Linked DNA regions of Homo sapiens: regions 1, 2 and 4 are each linked to region 3. Evidence: fine-mapped expression QTL. A gene starts in region 3. Each other region holds a variant in brackets. All regions are shown on one strand. Distances are between the middles of the regions. Region 1 has its middle 26 kb from the start of PLB1. Region 2 overlaps PLB1 (phospholipase B1). Region 3 holds the start of PLB1 (phospholipase B1). Region 4 has its middle 33 kb from the start of PLB1.

Region 1 (4,162 bases), 26 kb after region 3:
GCCCAGGACCAGCCAGCACCACAGGTCCAAAACCACATTGGACAGATGTCATCCTGTAGGAACATGTTCCCCGAGGAGGGTCCCTTCAGCCCTAACTAGGATGCCTGGATACACAGACACACAGCACATCCTGGCCAGGGCGGGGGCTGTGGGAAGGATCCAAGCATTGCACTGCAGCTTTTATCACACCTCACCCTTCTCCATCCCCACAACCAAATCGATAAAGGGTCATCTCCTACCTGAACCGTTCACAAACTCCTTTCTCCCTCTTCCTGTCACCCTCACAGCTGGCCTCTTGCTCTCTTCGCTGGCATGATGGGTGCCCTTGGGCTTCTCCCTGGGCTCTGCCAGCTGGACCTTCAGCCTGGGACAAGCCTTTCTAGGCAGTTCATCCCTGAGAACACTGTGGTGGCCACATGAGGGAGGCAGATCCTCCCCCGCCCTGGCTCCCGCCCATATCCCAGCAGGCTCCTCCTCCTGCACTCTTCATTGGCTTCTTCCCTTCCTCCCCTCATCACCGGGCTTCTCCTCAGTGCTGTCAGCTTGGGCCTCTTCCCTTCACCCATGATGCCTGTGGCCTTCTGGAAGGGTCACATGCCCCTCTCCCAGACCCTCAGGGCCCTCCATCCTGAGCCCAAGCCCTCCCTCTAGCCTTAACCTGAAAGATTCCCTCAGAGCCCGCCACATAGTTCTAGGGCCACGCTGCCTCTGTGTCTTCGTTCCAGCTGCACCTTCAGCCTGGAAGGCCTTCCTCCTGCCTTCACCTGATAAGTCCCTTCCTGCCCTCCAGATTCACCTCGAACCCCACCTGTCTCAGAGCAAAATGCACATAAGGGTGCACTTTGGAGTCAGAGACCTTGGCCCTTAATTCCTGCTTGGCCACTTTCCAACCATGTGGACCTGGGCAAGTCACTTCACATCCTTCTGAGTCTGTTCAATGAGTAATAAACTTTCCCAGTTCATGAGAGGAGGGGACGATCCCTAGCTCAGAGGTGAGAATGGAATGAATCAGGTATATGGAGTGCTCAGCACAGCACCTGCTCCTGGTCTGTCCTCAGGAGTGCCTGTCATTGGGGTGTGTTTCTGGTCCCCTCTCACCAACTGTGGAGCTTCAGAACATTCTGAGTCTCTCTGACAGCGCCCAAATTGGACGTTCTTTAGAGCTGGCAAACTCCTCTCAATTAGAACTCTTCTTTGCACCCCTTTTGGTCTTATACAAAATGTTTTTGTTGAATGGAAATAAGGATTCCCCTGTCCTGAAAAGAACAAACACTTCCTGTGGCTGGAAGTGCCCAAAGCCAACAAACGCCTCTCTGCCAGCACCTGCCTTCCGACCCTGAGGCCAGCCCAGCACCTCACCTCACACCTCACCCCTGTGTGTTAGACCACTTTGGCCTTTTTCTGGTTCCTCCTGTGCCTGCAGCAGAGTGACCTTGGACAGGGAAAGGCCTGGCTGAGCAGAGATGACCCCCAATAACAGCCAAAGAAGAAGCTGTGCTCGTGCAACTGACAGAACCTGCCCACCAGCCAGGCTGCTCCTCACAGACCTTCTTCTCGTGCTGTGCAAACAGAATGAATGGTGCCAAAGGCCAGGTGGAGTTACACTATTGGCATGGGAAGAGGCCTAAGGTGTTCATATTTTTGTATGCACAGAACAAAAACTTTGAAAGGATATCCTCCCACTTCCTCCTCCTCCTCCTCCTCTTCCTCTCCT[G/T]CTCTCTTCCTCTTTCTTCTCCCCCTCTTCCTCCCCCTCCCCCTCCTCCCTCTCCTCCTCCCCTTCCTCCTCCTCTTTCTCCCCCTCCTCCCCTTCCCCCTCCTCTTCATCCCACTTCCCCTTCTCCCTCCTCCTCCTCTTTCTTCTCCTCCTCCTCCTCCTTCTTCTTCTTCCTCTTCTTCTTCTTCGATTTTCCTGCTTTAGCTCCATTTTTCAGGAAATTATACATTTCCCATTCTATTTGTGGGCAGGGTGTGTAGCTCACCCTTCCCGCAAGGGGGAACATTTTTCTGGCTTTGTTGATTTCTGTATTATTTCTATTTTTTCAAAGAGATGAAGTGTTTTTTTTTAAACAAGTAAAGAAAAAACAAAACATTGAATGAATAAATAAGTAAATAAATACATGGCTTTAGCCCACGCTCTCCCTTTTCAAGAATTTGCTCTTCCATAAATCCACCTTCCCCCAGGGACTTACTCAGTTTAAGCAGTCAGTGATCTTCCAACTAGTCCCCTTGGGATAGAAAACTGAAGAATTGAGGCCCTGTGGGGGTGGCTGTGGAAATCACACAGCCAGGGCTGTCCCAGTTCCCTGCCATCACTATGACTAAGGCAATGCCTGCTGGCCAGTATCCAGCCAAAATCCCTCCAAGGATGGGGAGAGAAGAGAAGCCTCTCTTTCCAGCACACCCAGAGTGGCCCTGATTGGCTAGGCCAGGGGCACTGGATCAGCATCTCCCAGGCTCAGAGAGTTTCCTTCCTAAGGCCCCAGGGTTCTCTCCCACCAGCTGACCTCAGAGGATCTGCCTTCATCTCTTAGAGATGTGAGAAATCATGGTCCCCAGCAAGCAGGAGGCAGGTTCCTGAGGCTGCTCAGGGCCACTGCACAGCTGACACCTCCTTCCCAGCAGCCTTCCAGCTCCACCTGCAAAGGAACGTGTGAGAACGGGGTCCAAACCGTCCCATCATGCCTGTCCTTCCCCCAGGACAGTAGGTGTCTACTCACAGAAGTCCACACAACTCAAAGCAAAGAGAACCCACTCAAGGCGGTGAGCAGAGTCTCTCCTTATCCAGCCCTCTTCCTAAGAGAAGAACTAAATGACCAGGCAAATCAGAGGTGTCACCACACACAGTGACAAGGGGAGCTCTTGTCCAGCTGGACTGGGCCTCACTTGAAGGCTTATTGGGGAATTAGTTAATCAGCAGTCCAGCAGCCTCCCGGAGCCCCCAGACAAATGGAAAGGACATTTCTGGGGTTCATCTCCCAGCCCCCTTTCCTGCCCTCTACCCAACCATGCCCTTATGCCTCATACTCCAGTTAGACTAAATGCACCCAGCACTCATCATTTATGAGGCTTTGCATACGGTAATTTCTCAGCAGAGACCACCCCCTTCCCTCCCTCCTCCCCCGCCTGGATAACTCTTACTTCAAATGCAATCCGTGCCCCTGGAAAACCACCCTGCCATTTCCCCTAACTTCCTTGGTGTCCCTCCTCTGGCCAGGCCCACTGGCACCCTGTGCCCCCAGAATAGCCCTGATCCTCAGTCTTTTGTGGATCATAGGTCTGTCTTTGTATAGATGCAGGAGTCCTTGAGAACTTTGCCTTTCTATAGCCCCAGTTGCCAGCACCTAGCAGCGCAGCACTGAGTAGCTGCTCAATAAAAATGTGTTGAAGTGAATAAAGCCATGAATTAGAATGTAGATTAAGACCTAGAGGCCAGGAGAGGTGGCTCATACTTAGAATCCCAATATTTTGGGAGGCCGAGGCAGGAGAATTGCTTGAGAACAGGAGTCCAAGACTAGCCTGGGCAATATGGCGAGACCCCATCTCTACAAAAAAAAAATAGTTGGACTGTGTGCCTGTGGTCCCATCTACTCAGGAGGCTGAAGTGGAAGGATCCCTTGAGCCTGGGAGGTAGTGAGCCATGATCCTGCCACTGCACTCCCGCCTGGGTGACAGAGAAAGACCCTGTCTCAAAAAATGTTTAAAATTTAAAAAATTTAAGAAGACCTAGAATTTAAACTCCTCCCATTGGTACAAGGAAGGAGTGAAATGAAGGCTCCTTCTCCTGACATCCCAAACTACATCTGATAGTCTGTTCTGCCTGTTGGCCAGGCCCCAGACCTCCACCTTCTGACTCTATCCTCTCCTTGCCCTTTGCCTCCATGAAGCTCTTTCTAACCACCCTGGTGTCTGAACCCCCAAGCCCTTGCTGCCTGAGCCCTTCACCTGCCACTCGATTGGTCCTGCTTTGGTTCCTGATTAGATGTGGGCCTGATTCTTCTCCCTACCCAGGGCTGAAAGCTCCAAAAAGGCAGCCAGCCTGGCTTCTGCTCCTTTGCCTCCCCCAAAGGAGAGGTGCGGGGTATGGCCCAAAGTCTGCATTTCATAAATTAGCAAAATGGCTGAGTGAATTGATGAATGGCTTAATTTCCAAGGAGGGTTTCAC
Region 2 (4,162 bases), 110 kb before region 3:
TGAGGCAGGGGTTGGCAGCCATGTGTGCAATGAGTGGCTGGAACTGAGAAGACTCTCAGCTGGGTGGTGGCAGTCAGAGGCAGGAGGACATAATGGTATTTCACGGGATGTCCTAAGAGGTTTTCTATCCCATTCCATTCAAAAAGTGCTAGTTCCGGCCGAGTGTGGTGGTTCACACATGTAATCCCAGCACTTTGGGAGGCCAGTGTGGGAAGATTGCTTGAGCTCAGGAGTTTGAGACCAGCCTGGGCAACAGAGTGAGACCCCATCACTATTAATTAAAAAAAAAAAAGTGCTGGTTCTTTACCTACACTGATTTCAGGTGGTAAGAAAGTGTGAACATTTGGGGACAGAGAGCATTAGGACAAATACCTAATGCATGCACAGCTTAAAATCTAGATGACCGGTTGATAGGTACAGCAAACCACCATGGCACATGTATACTTATGTAACAAACCTGCACCTTCTGCACATGTATCCTGGAACTTAAAGTCAAATAAATAAATAAATAAAAAAGAAAGTGTGAACATTTAAGCAGAGGCCATAGGGTGTCTTGGGAGGGATGTGGTAGAAGAATTCCATTATTCTATGAGAGATTGCATCCACAGAAGTCTAAGGCCCTCCCCACTGAGAACCTAAGATTACATAAGTCTATTGTTTCATGGTGGGAAGGTGCGACTAGTTAGCCTTTAACGTACAAAGTGATGAGAATCTGAGCCCCTGCAGTGGCAGTGGGAAAAGGAAGAGGGACAGGTGGGAAGAATCCTATTAGATTCTGGAGGACTGGTAAGAATCCGATTAGATAGGGTCCCTGACATTTCATGCCTGTAGAGCTTGAAAACCCTAATGAAGTTGGCAGAAATAGAGAACTCCTAAGGAACAGAGAGTTTGGGAAGACAAAGAATTAGTTCCTATTTAGACACTCCTTGCTCAGAAAATTATTTTTTGAATGAATGTTAAGCTTGAGATGGTGGTGGGGTCATGGCAGGATTGGATTTAGAAGCTCTGAGCGTCAAAAAGATAACAATGTCACTTATATGTAATTCAATACAGAAGCACTGCTAAACAACAAACTAAGTTTAAGGGAATTTGATAAACTTCGGCTTTTTCTCATAAGAAAAGATAGGGTATGATACATGAACTTATTTCAGCCCCCTCCTGCTTGATCATACATTAATCTGCCTTTTGGGTAACCTTATACCAGATAGAGCATCCAAGGGGAAATGTATTTTAAAGGTCAGAAATAGAGGATTGGAGTTCGGGAAAGGAGAAATGAAGACACAGATTGAGAGACTGAGGAATCCAGCACAAAGAAATTTTACAGGAAATCCTGGAAATGGGTAAGTCTCAGAGTGAGAGGATGTGGAGAGAGAGAAAAGAAAACAGAGGCCGGGCACAGCTGCTCACACTTGTAATCCCAGCTCTTTGGAAGGCCAAGGCTGATGGATCACTTGAGTCCAGAGTTCAAAATCAGCCTGAGCAAAATGGCAAGACCCCACCTCTACCAAAACAAATAAACCAAAATTAGCTGGGCATGGTGGTGCATGCCTGCAGTCCCAACTACTCAGGAGGCTGAGGTGGGAGGATGGCTTGAGCCTAGGAGTTGAAAGCTGCAGAGAGCTGTGATTGCGCCACTGCACTTCCAGCCTGGGAGACGGAGCAAGACCCTGTTTCAAAAAGTGAGTGAAAAAGGAAAGAAAATAGAATGGAGACATGAAAATTGGAGAATATCTACATTTTCAAGACTGGGGAAAGGGAGGAGGAGGGTCATTAAAGGCAAGCAAACAGAAGACCAGAAAAATCAAGGCGATTTAGTGTCCACAAACCCAGGAAGGAGTGAATTTCAAGGGGGAGGTGGTGACTTTTGACAAGGGCTTCAGAGAGGTCAAAAAGAATGAAACCTAAGAAAAGGACCAGGTGTTCAGCCAGCTGCCCTGGGGTTAGGAAAGGAGTGGGCAGAGAGCCCATTAAGGCAGAGTATAGGCTCAGTCCACAGAAGGCTAGTCAAAAGTTGTCTGTAAAAGAATTTGTCCAACTTGAAACTACAACAGAAATCCATGGCGTGCTGTTAAGTCACCCTACCTGGCACACAGAACGTATGAGCAGTTAGACTGCGGATGGGAGAAGGGAGGAGGCTGAGAAAGCTCATGCTCACAGCCATCTCGGCCTCCTGCCTCCCGCCCCCCACTGCGTCTTGCCTGTTGCCTGTTGCCTCTATGTTTAGACACATCTAGGACAAAAATAGGTGCTGCCTGGCCCCTGTCAGCTCACACTGAGATGCTGGTGGACTTTTATATCACTCCAAGGCACATGGGAGGGAGCAGATGGGACTGAGGAATGCAGAATGCTCAGAACACAGTGAAGTTGGGCTGGCCAACAGATGGACCCTTTCAGAATGGGCTCCAATGTTGCTTAGCAACAGCTTCACCAGGGCTGGGCTTCTACTGGTTCCACGAGGCTGGATCTGCTCACCTCTGCAAATCAGTGCAGTGGCTCCATTGGGCTCTGTCTAGAAGGGAGGCACTGAGCCCACTCAGCTTAAGATGCTGCTGGGTGGA[G/A]CAGCCTCCTTTTGGGGGTCTCTGCCTGATCTGGGGTAAAGCCTGGAAGTGGTTGCCTCGAAGCCCAGGGTGACAGGGCTCTCCCTGACCCAGTGCTTAGGCTCCAACTCAGTACTCAATACACGTTTGTTGAAAGAAAGAGCAAATGATGGCTGCTTTTGTTATGTAATGGAAGGGGAGTGGACAGTTTGGAAAGGGCCCTCCATGGCTGATATTCAGTATGGCTATAGGGTTGGTAAAATATTGACATATCTACAATATGGCTATTTCTGAGTCCCCAAATGCCCCCACTATCCACGGTCCCTGGCTGCTCCCCTAGAACCCCCAGGCATCCTTAGGAAAGCAGTTAAAGAGTTTACACCTGGCACAGTAGGGGCCTCTAAGGTTTTGCTCCAGGCCTTTGGCCAGCACCTGACCACCTGGACTAGAGGCATCTGTGTTGCACTAGCTGTTGCAGAATCTGACAATCTCCTTAGCTCCAAGCACAAGACCCAGCAACTGAGCCCTCTGCTACGACTGTCTTCACTTCCCATCCCTTCTTCCTGCCATTCTTGCTCTCCTGATGGGGCTGATGGCACACAAGACTGAGCCTGAGCCCAAGACTGGGGTAGGGCAGGCAGCAGACAGGGAGCAGGCATGTGAACAGGGGTGCCCACTCTCTCAGGATTCCCAGCAGACACATGGGGGAGCTGCAGGTCCATTCCCCAGCAGGGAGGGTGGGAGAGGGTGGTGTGGCCGACCTAGGAGGGAAACCCAGCCTCCCAGATTGGGTCAGGCCTTCTGCTTTTATTGCTGCTGAGGGTTTTCTGGCCTTGGCCTTATTTGGTTAAAAAGCCATAAGACCGGGCCTAGAAACAGGAGCTGAAGACAATGAGAACCTGCCCCCACCCCAGGCCTGAAGTCAAGCTTAACAACCACTTACGGATTCCTCCTTAAAAGGAGCCTGGAGCTGCCGTGTCCTGGTAGGCCCACCCTCGTCCCTCCTCCATACAGCTCTGGGCTCTGCCCTTTGCTGCTGTCCTCTGTGATCCTTTCCTTGTGGAATCTCCCTAATCCAGGCTCTCCTCTCTCCAACCACAGCTCTTAAGCCTGCCTGGCTCCTGCCTGGGCCCTCTAACCTGCAGTCAGATTTTTTCATCTGCCCCAAACACCACTGCTAAGAGAAGCCCTCCTGCCATTTTCCTGGCATCCTGATTTCCTCTCTCAGGAGCCCACTTTTCTCACCGGGATCCTCTCCCTCTGCTGGGGCCCAGGCCTCCTCTCCCTGCTGCATCTCCTGTTCCCAATGACAGCTGCACTCTTGTCTCCCCTCTCACCTCCCCTGTCCATCCTCATGGACTCCCCTCCATCCTCCAAATCTCTCAGGCCTCAGTAAGGGGGCAAGATGGGTACTGAGGAAGCTGTGGTGGAGGACGAAGTGGGTAGGGCGAGCTGTGTGCCCTGGTTTGTGGAGAGGAGCCAGGCAGGTCCTCCCCTACTACCTGAGTGGGACAGGTGATGGGCATCTCTGCTCTCAGGTCCAGGGTCTCTGTTTTGCTTCCAAGTGGTTCAAGCTGATCAGGGAAGAAAAGAGAGACACGGGTGTAGTAGTTTGTTTCCATGGA
Region 3 (4,162 bases):
GGTAAGCTGAGACCAAGCCACTGCACTCCAGCCTGGGTGACACAGCCAGACTCTGTCTCAAAAAAAAAAAAAATAGAGAATATACAAATGGACAACGGTGGGACCACATATGATAACAGAACTCTGAGCCACAGTCTGCAATCGGCCAGGCCAGAGAACCAAACTGCAGCCTCTGCAGCAATCAGCCCAGAATGGTCAGGTTTGGTTAATGACTGCCATCTTCTCTATTTTTTGCTCTGCTTCCAACTCAGGACCCCTCAGAGAAAGCCAGATACACTCCCAACTGGATAACTTCAGATGCCGTGCCTCTAGTCAGCTGGTCCCTGATACCAACAACCTCCAACCAGAGCAGATCTGAAGATTTCCCTTTTTTCCACTGTGAAACTTTCCCACTCCCCTGCCTGCCTTTGAATCTTGGCCAAACATAAGTGATGTCTCGCTACAGCGAGCTCTGAATAAGTAGCCTCTGTTTGTCCTCATTTGGGTAGTCTACATTTATTTACACAAAATTAAGAATTTTGCTCATCAAAAGTCCCCATAGGAGGACAAGCTTCAGAGTGGAACAAGATATTTGTCATATATGTAACCTCCAAAGAGCTAGTACACAGCATATATGGAGAACTCCTAAAAAATCAATAGGAAAAAGACTTCAACAGGCACTTCACAAAAGAGAAACTCAAACAATCTCTATGAAAACACTCCTTGGCCTCATCAGTAATCAAAGAAATACAATCATCCTGTGCAGAAGGCATAGCAAGCATCGTCATTCTCCCCCACGGCTCAGAGCGGTAACTGACTTGCCCCAGAGAAGCCTCAAGCATGGGCTCAGACCCTAGGCAGGCCCAGGACTCTGTCCCATGCCTCCTCCACTCTCTCTGGGGAGTCAAGGGCAAGTGCCTTCTCACTCCAGACCCCGTCCTCTCATCTGGAGAAGATGAAAGATCTTTAAGGCCCTTTTCAGTTTAAAAGATTCTGCCTTCCTAAGCAAAGGGAGAGCCAATGATGGGAAGAAGAGGGGCAGAGAGGGATTGTGGCAGAGGCACAATCTACCCACAGTCATTAATGTTGGGGGGAATGGAAAGCCCTGGCTGGTTGCCCACTCAGTTCAATGAAAGCTCAGCACTCTGTTTAGCAGCACTAAAGAATGTAGGCAATCTTTTAGAATTTATCATCTGGAAATCTGTCTTCCTTTGTCCTTCAAAAACAAAACAAAGCTCATAAATGGTAATAGTAATGATCAAAATGTGCATAGTAGTAGTATTTCCATTTTAAGGATGAAAAAAATCAAGGTCCAGGGAGGTGGAAGAACTTGCCCAAAGCCACAAAGCACAAACAAATAGAATCCAGGGGTTTTTTTTGTACCATGGTACTGCTACCGGACTGCACTTCTCTCCTGTCCCAAGATCTGCCTCGCTCCCGGCAGCCTTTGGGACATGTAACCCTGTGTAGGCAGCCTCTGCATCCCATTCCGCAGGAGGCAAACCAGACTTCTTATTCTTGAACTGTACGCTTTGTGCTTTATCTCTTCAAAAGCACACACTCCTCTCACACACCCATTGCCTAAGCAACATGGGACACCAGCGGGGCTAAACCACTGGTTGTCCTCTGAGCAAAAGGCACGCTTACCTTGCCCCAGAAGCAGCAGCAGCTCCAGGAGGAAAATGCCTGGCCGCAGCCCCATGCCAGAATGCTCCAGGTGACTCGGGCCTCTGGAAGAGCTGCTCCAGCAGATGGATGGGCTATCACACCTCCTCCTGCTTTTATGTTCCTCTGTGTTCTGATAGAGCACCTGTCATAAATTTTACTGTGTTCACCTTTGAAAGGGGGTAGTGGCGGGCTGTAAATGATAAATATTAACACTTAGGCGGAAGAGTTCTTAAGGCAGATGAGTCAATGATGGGTAGCATGTTCTAGTCATAGACACTGACAGACCAGGGCCGCATAGCTGCCTCCATACAGCCTTCCATGATGGTGGGTGCCCAGAAATTGCCGGTGTTCGGGTCTGCTGGGAAGAACGTGGGCCTGGGAATCCCAGGTGCTGGTCGGAATTCCAAATCAACCACAGCTGTGGGAACTTGGGTGTATCCCTTAACGTGGCCTCAGCTTTCTCAGTTGTAAGCCAGGAGATCAAAAGTACCTTGTAACAAATGTAAACCATAAACCTACCTCCAAATGTGAAACGTGTTCCCACCGTGTCTCAGAAGCTCTGCTAGGTTCCCTGGTTTGCATGACACAGAGAGGTTTGTTCTGTTCCCCCCATCTCCAAACCCATGGGTGGCCAGTTGTGTTGGGTGGATGTGCACACCATAGATTTGTTGTCTGCATGTTGAATTCAGAGATACAAGCCAGAGAGGGGGAACCAAGTTTGACAAAATCAGCCGTTTCCTTTGGGTAAACTAAGTCAGGAATGCAGGCTGGGTCTAAACTGGGCAGACAAAGCTGGCATTTAAAGCCTGAGTGACAAATACCCTTGAGAGTAGAATTTAAATTTTTTACACAAATATCAAGAAACAATTGCCTTGGTTGATAGGAACAAATATATTTAAATTATCCTTGCTTTCTGGCCATGCTTGTGGGTGTGAGGCTGGGATCCTGACTTCTGAGGTCTAGCTAAGACTCTAGGGCTGGTTCCCATGACCCAACCTCAGATTCTGATCTCCTGGCTGACCCACTTTTCTCATATTTAAAAATCACAGCCAGACACAGTGGCTCACACCTGTGATCCCAGCACTTTGGAAGGCTAAAGAAGGAGGATTATTTGAACCCAGGAGTTTGAAAACCAGCCTGGGCAACTCCATCTCTACAAAAAATAAAAATAAATTAGCCAGGCATGGTGGCATGCACCTGTAGTCCCAGGTACTTGGGAGGCTGAGGCAAGAGGATTGCTTGAGCCCAAGAGTTCAAGGTTGCAGTGAGCTATGATTGCACCACTGCACTCCAGCCTGGACAAGAGCAAGATTCCATCTCAATTAAAAAAAAATTGTTTTTAATTACTGTTATAACCTCTATTGTCTTGAGTAGAAAGTGAAGACGAAGTGAGTGGCCCTTTGTTCCTGAATCTCTGGTTTTAGGATGTTGTCTCCCTTTCTCAACTGCTCAGAAAATATGTGACTTGTGGGTCACCACTGATTTAGCCAATGCCAAAGGCTTAGCCTAAGCCTCAGGACTGTAGGGGGGTATTGGGACATGCCAGAGGTGTGTGGACACTGACACACTTAGTCCAGCTGGCCATCAGCTAGTTCCAGAGCCTAGAAGAGGGCAGCACACACAGACACACAGAAAAGGAAGAAGAAAATACACCCAAGGCCAAGGTCTGTGGGGGACAAGTGAGCACAGATGCCCCTGGATATGTAGACACTTGTCAACTTCACCAAACTGCCCCCAAGTTCAATGAGAAGCCAGAGCTGCTGTCCCACTAAGGATGTCAGGAGTTTACCCAGCTCCATGCCACCAGCAGCTTTGAGGAGCATCACTGAACTTGCCTGGGCTGAATAGGCCAAGGTCCCCACTCATGTGCAGGCCAGCTGGAGGTGGGGTGGAAAGGACATGGGGCATGCGCAGAAGTAAGTTGGTTCCACGCTCCAGGTACTCGCTCCATCTCTTAACTGCTTCTCTCCAGGACTACCACAGCCCAACTGGGTTACCATCCTTCCTCTAACTCCTTTCACATTTAGAAAAATTGAGAAATGCCTTAAAAACATTTGAATGTTGGGAAGGCATTTTGGTATGGGATAGACTGGATGTCCTTTTAGGTAGAATAAATCTCTGAGTTCCATCCATGCATCAAGGAATCCTCACCAACTGTGAGGCTGTAGGGGAAGCAACATTTCTTAGACACTCTTTTTAAAAATTTTTTTGAAAAACAGAGATGAGGTCTCACTATACTGCCCAGGCTGGTCTTGAACTCTTGGGCTCAATCAATCCTCCCACCTTGGCCTCCCAAAGTGCCGCGTTTACAGGCATGAGCCACGTCGCCCAGCCTCTTGGCACCCTTACAGCATCGCAGCTTAACTGGCACCTACTATTTATGTGGTCTAGTAGCAGCTATGAAAACAAGGGGAAAGTCGTCTGAAGTCAAAGGCTCCATCACTTGTCCATAAACTTTTGTTCTCTGACTTTTGCTAGAAAATGTCCTAAGAGGACATGTCCTATAAAAGGGGAT
Region 4 (4,162 bases), 32 kb after region 3:
TTTTGTTTCAATACTATGTAAGTCTATATATCATATATGTATGTGCACCAAATTACGATGTAAAATTGGTGAAAACGAGTTTGAAAGCCACTAGGTCAGAGACAGAGTGGGGGCAACCCTGCTCTGTGAGCCAAATCCTGTCTCAGATTAATTTTATCTGGCCAGGGGTGGAGCAAGATGGCAACCAAGTGCAATCCTGATGGGAGCAAGGTGACAACCAGGCCTGGGACCAAGCTCTGATGGGCTTCATTCCTGAGTCGAAGAGGCCACAGCAGAGTGCACAGGCAGATTCCAGACTTTCCTCGGGAAGCTGCTATCCGTTTTCTCAAATGAGGTCTGTGTGTCCCACCATTCGCAGACATACCTCCCCACCGTGACCACCACCATCCTGACACTTGCATATTGGCCACACTCCTCACCCTAGCCCAGGAGGAAGCCAGGAACTTCTGCATGCATCATGTCTTTGGAGTCCACCCCATGGCCAGTCCTGTTCCCTCCATCCCTCCATCTCAGCCCCTTAGTGCCTCTTCCATAAGATCGCCTGGGGTATGGCAATGAATTAGTGGCATAGTCTGTATCCCCTGTCTCCATATTCCTGAATTGCTTAACTTATTGAATAGGTTTCTTTAATATCATCTGCAGACTGAAGGAACTGACAAAAAATGATGGTGTGGATTTGACAGTTGCTATGAATGAGCTGCCTACAATTCTATCTAAGGCTGGCTCTCCATTGGAGCACAGGATTCTGTACTCTCACTTTCTTTTTTTTCCTTTAAATTAGAGATGGGGTCTCTCTGTGTTGCCCAGGCTGGTCTTGAACTCCTGAGCTCAAATGATCCTCCCACCTTGGCCTCCCAAAGTGCTGGGATCACAGGTGTGAGCCTCCACACCCGGCCCAACTCTCACTTTCCTGACACATCAATGATCCCCTCTCAATTATGCCCTCTGGCATACCAACATGATATAATTTTTCCCAATGTCGAAAATCAAAACATAACTTCTCTTGACCTCATAGCCCCCTCCAGCTTCAATCCTATTTTTCTATTCTCTTGGCAGTTAAAATTTCTTGAAAGCTTTCTCCAAACTTATGGATTCAAGTCTTCGTTTCAGTGAGTTCTGAGTCTTCCACTGGAACAAAACTGTTGTCAGTTCACCAAGGACCTTCATGTTGCTAAACCCAGTAGTGAACTTTTCATCTTTATCTTACTTAAGCCATTAACAGCATTTGATACCTTTGGTCACTCTGTCTTTTTTTGAAATACTTTCTTCATTTTGACTTCAAGACAACGCTCTTGTGGTTTTCCTCTTTCGACATTGCCCACTCTTTCTCATCTGCATTCTTACTTCTTCCTCATCATGCTGGTGTGTAAACACTGGAGTGCACTGATCTGGGTTCTGGACCTGTTTCTCTTATGCATCTACACTCACGGCCTAGGTGATTTTACCCACACACATGACTCTTCATACCTTCTATACCCTGTCAAATGTTAAATGATTTATCTCCAGAGCTCCGGGTGCATACATCCAACTGGCTAGTGCACATCTTCACTTGCATATCTTGTGACCATCTGAAATGTAATGTGTCCAAACAAAACTTCTCGCAGTTCTGTTTCCAGGGTAGCATAGTGAGCTCCTGCTGTATAAACCCCTACAGGTAACTACCATAAACTCTGAACAAAATAGGAAAAACAACGACCTGAAGGCCCTGGAGTGTGAACAAAAGCAGGCAGTTTCTGGAGAGGAGTTACTACTTGGAAAAGGAAGATGCATATGCGATGAGTTTCACAGTTTTTATGGCTTTTATCCAAAAGGCAGGCCATGGTAGAGTCACACAGGGCAGATAAAATGATGATAGAAAGTCTGCAGTCCTTCTGGCCTAAAGAATCAAAGGATAGAGTTCGAGGCAACCACAGCCATTGGAAAGTGAGAGGGAGAATCCATAAACAGAGAGACGCAGAGAAGAAGAACCACAAATTCTGTGTATAAACTGTCCAAATCTCTGGCCAATTCCTAGTCCATGCATGCATGAGGCAGGCTCAAGCAGCCCAGATAAGAATGTACAAACTAAACTGAGATTTAAACTGGTGCTCAAGAGATGGTTTACAGCTTGATCCAACCAAGTTAATAGCTTGCTTAAAACAAAACAAA[A/G]TTTAAAAATCAGCATTTGGCCAGACGTAGTGGCTCAATCCTTTAATCCCAGTGCTTTGGGAGGCTGGAGCCAGAGGAGCACTTGAAGCCAGGAGTGTGAGACCAGACTAGGCAACATAGCGAGACACCTCTCTACAAAAAATAAAATTTAAATAAAAATTTAAAAAAGTAGCCAGGCATGGTGGCTACTTGGGAGGCTTGAGGTGGGAAGATCGCTTGAACCCAGAAGTTTGAGACTGCAGTGAGCTATGATTGTGCCACCACACTCCAGCCTGAGTGACAAACTAAGAATCTATATTAAAAAAAAAAAAAAATCAGCAGTTAGGGGAAATAACAGAATCCAGAGTCTCCACAACTTAACAATCATAATGTTCAGAATATCCAAATTATTTCATATATGAAGAACAGGGAAAATGTGATCCATTTTTAAGAGACAAGACAATCAACAGAGACTGACCCTGAGATGACCTAGATATTGGAATTAACAAAATCATAATTCTCAAGTAGCTATTATAACTATGCTTTGCAAGCTGAGGATGATACATGTACAACAAATAAAAAGATAGGAAACCTCAGCAGAGAAACTTGATTTAGAGGAAAACTAAATAGAAATTCTAGAACTGGAAAAGATAATGTTTGAAATAAAAGATTCACCAGTTTGGCTTAACAACAGTGTTCAGATAATAAAGGAGTCAACAACCTTGAAATCAGATCAGTACAAAAAGTATCCAATCACAACAAAGAGAACAAAGATTGAAAACAAACAACAACAACAAAAACACAGAGCCTCAAGAGCCTGTAAAAACAGTATCAAAATGTTTAACATGTGAAATGAAACCCCAGAAGGAAAAAAGAAAGACTACAGGATAAAAGAAGAGAAAATATTTGAAGAAACAATGGCTAAAATTTCCCCTTATTTGGTGAAAGACATGCATTTACAGACTCAAGAAACCCAGCATACCTCAAGTAGGATAAATACAAAGAAAATCTCCCTTAGGCACATCATAGTCCAACTGCTAAAAATCAAAGATAAAGAGGAAATCTTGACACAGCCCAAGAAAAAAGATATGTTACACATGGGGTGGAAAAAAAATCAAATCACTGGTGACTTCTCATCAGAAACCATGGAGGGCAGAAGCCAGTTTTTCAAACCCAGATTTATGAAATATCCTTCAAAAATGAAGGTAAAACAAAGAAATTTCCCCAAAAACAAGAAAACTAAAAGAATTCACCATTAGCATCTTCACTACAAGAAATGCTTAAGAAAGTTCTCAGGCTGAAAGGCAACAATACAGAAGACAAATGTGGATCATTAGAAACAAAGGAAGAGTGTGGGAAACAGTAAAAAGCTAGGTCAATACAAAAATCCTGATTCCCACTCTGACCCACCTAAACCTGCTTTTTCCCATAGACTTGCCTGTCTTGGTGATGGAAACACCGGCTTAATGGTTCCCAGGCAAAAACCATGGCATTCATTCTTTTTCTTACACCCCAACAAGGATTCTTGTTTCTACCTTCAAATTAAAATGTATTCAGAATCTGACCATTTTTTCTGCCTTTCTTTGTCTTCCTGGTCCAAGCCACTGTTTTGTTTTTTTTTTTCTTATTTCTAGAAGAGTTTTGAATACACCTGGATTGCTGCAATAGCCTACTCATTGATCTCCTATTTATTTTATTTTATTTTATTTTGTAGAGGTGGGGTCTCAGTATGTTGCCCAGGCTGGTCTCCTGACTCGCCCTCCCAAAGTGCTGGGATTACAGGTGTGAGCTGCCACACTCAGCCCTGATCTCCTATTTCTACTCCTGGTACTGTACTGGTGATTTTCCACATAGCAGCCAAGGAAACCTTTTAACACCTATGCCAGTTTTTCACTCTTTGCTCAACACTCTCCACTGGCCTTCTACCTTATCAAGGAAAAGAAACGAGTCCTTAGCACAGTCTACAAAGGCCCCGGGTGATGTGGACCCAGATACTTCTCTGATCTTCCCCTCTTTATACACTTCCTCCTTCTCT

What was found.
Region 1: its variant is fine-mapped to the expression of PLB1 in whole blood (TOPMed, PIP above 0.99).
Region 2: its variant is fine-mapped to the expression of PLB1 in blood mononuclear cells (TOPMed, PIP 0.95).
Region 4: its variant is fine-mapped to the expression of PLB1 in whole blood (INTERVAL, PIP above 0.99).

What each region holds. Positions count from the first base shown.
Region 1 is chr2:28,467,691-28,471,852 of GRCh38, reverse strand. No RefSeq gene overlaps it. Among named protein-coding and RNA genes, the nearest start is that of PLB1, 26 kb to the left of the region's middle. The variant G/T (reference allele first, on the strand shown) is at 1,715.
Region 2 is chr2:28,606,445-28,610,606 of GRCh38, reverse strand. It overlaps PLB1 (phospholipase B1), which reads right to left. Exons shown (of 58, transcript NM_153021.5): 43 at 4,040-4,111. Among named protein-coding and RNA genes, the nearest start is that of PLB1, 110 kb to the right of the region's middle. RefSeq lists enhancers at 2,436-3,067, 3,068-3,698, 3,699-4,162 and a silencer at 3,054-3,221. The variant G/A (reference allele first, on the strand shown) is at 2,559.
Region 3 is chr2:28,493,634-28,497,795 of GRCh38, reverse strand. PLB1 (phospholipase B1) reads right to left here and starts at 1,736. Exons shown (of 58, transcript NM_153021.5): 1 at 1,627-1,736. The coding sequence starts at 1,681.
Region 4 is chr2:28,461,248-28,465,409 of GRCh38, reverse strand. No RefSeq gene overlaps it. Among named protein-coding and RNA genes, the nearest start is that of PLB1, 33 kb to the left of the region's middle. The variant A/G (reference allele first, on the strand shown) is at 2,149.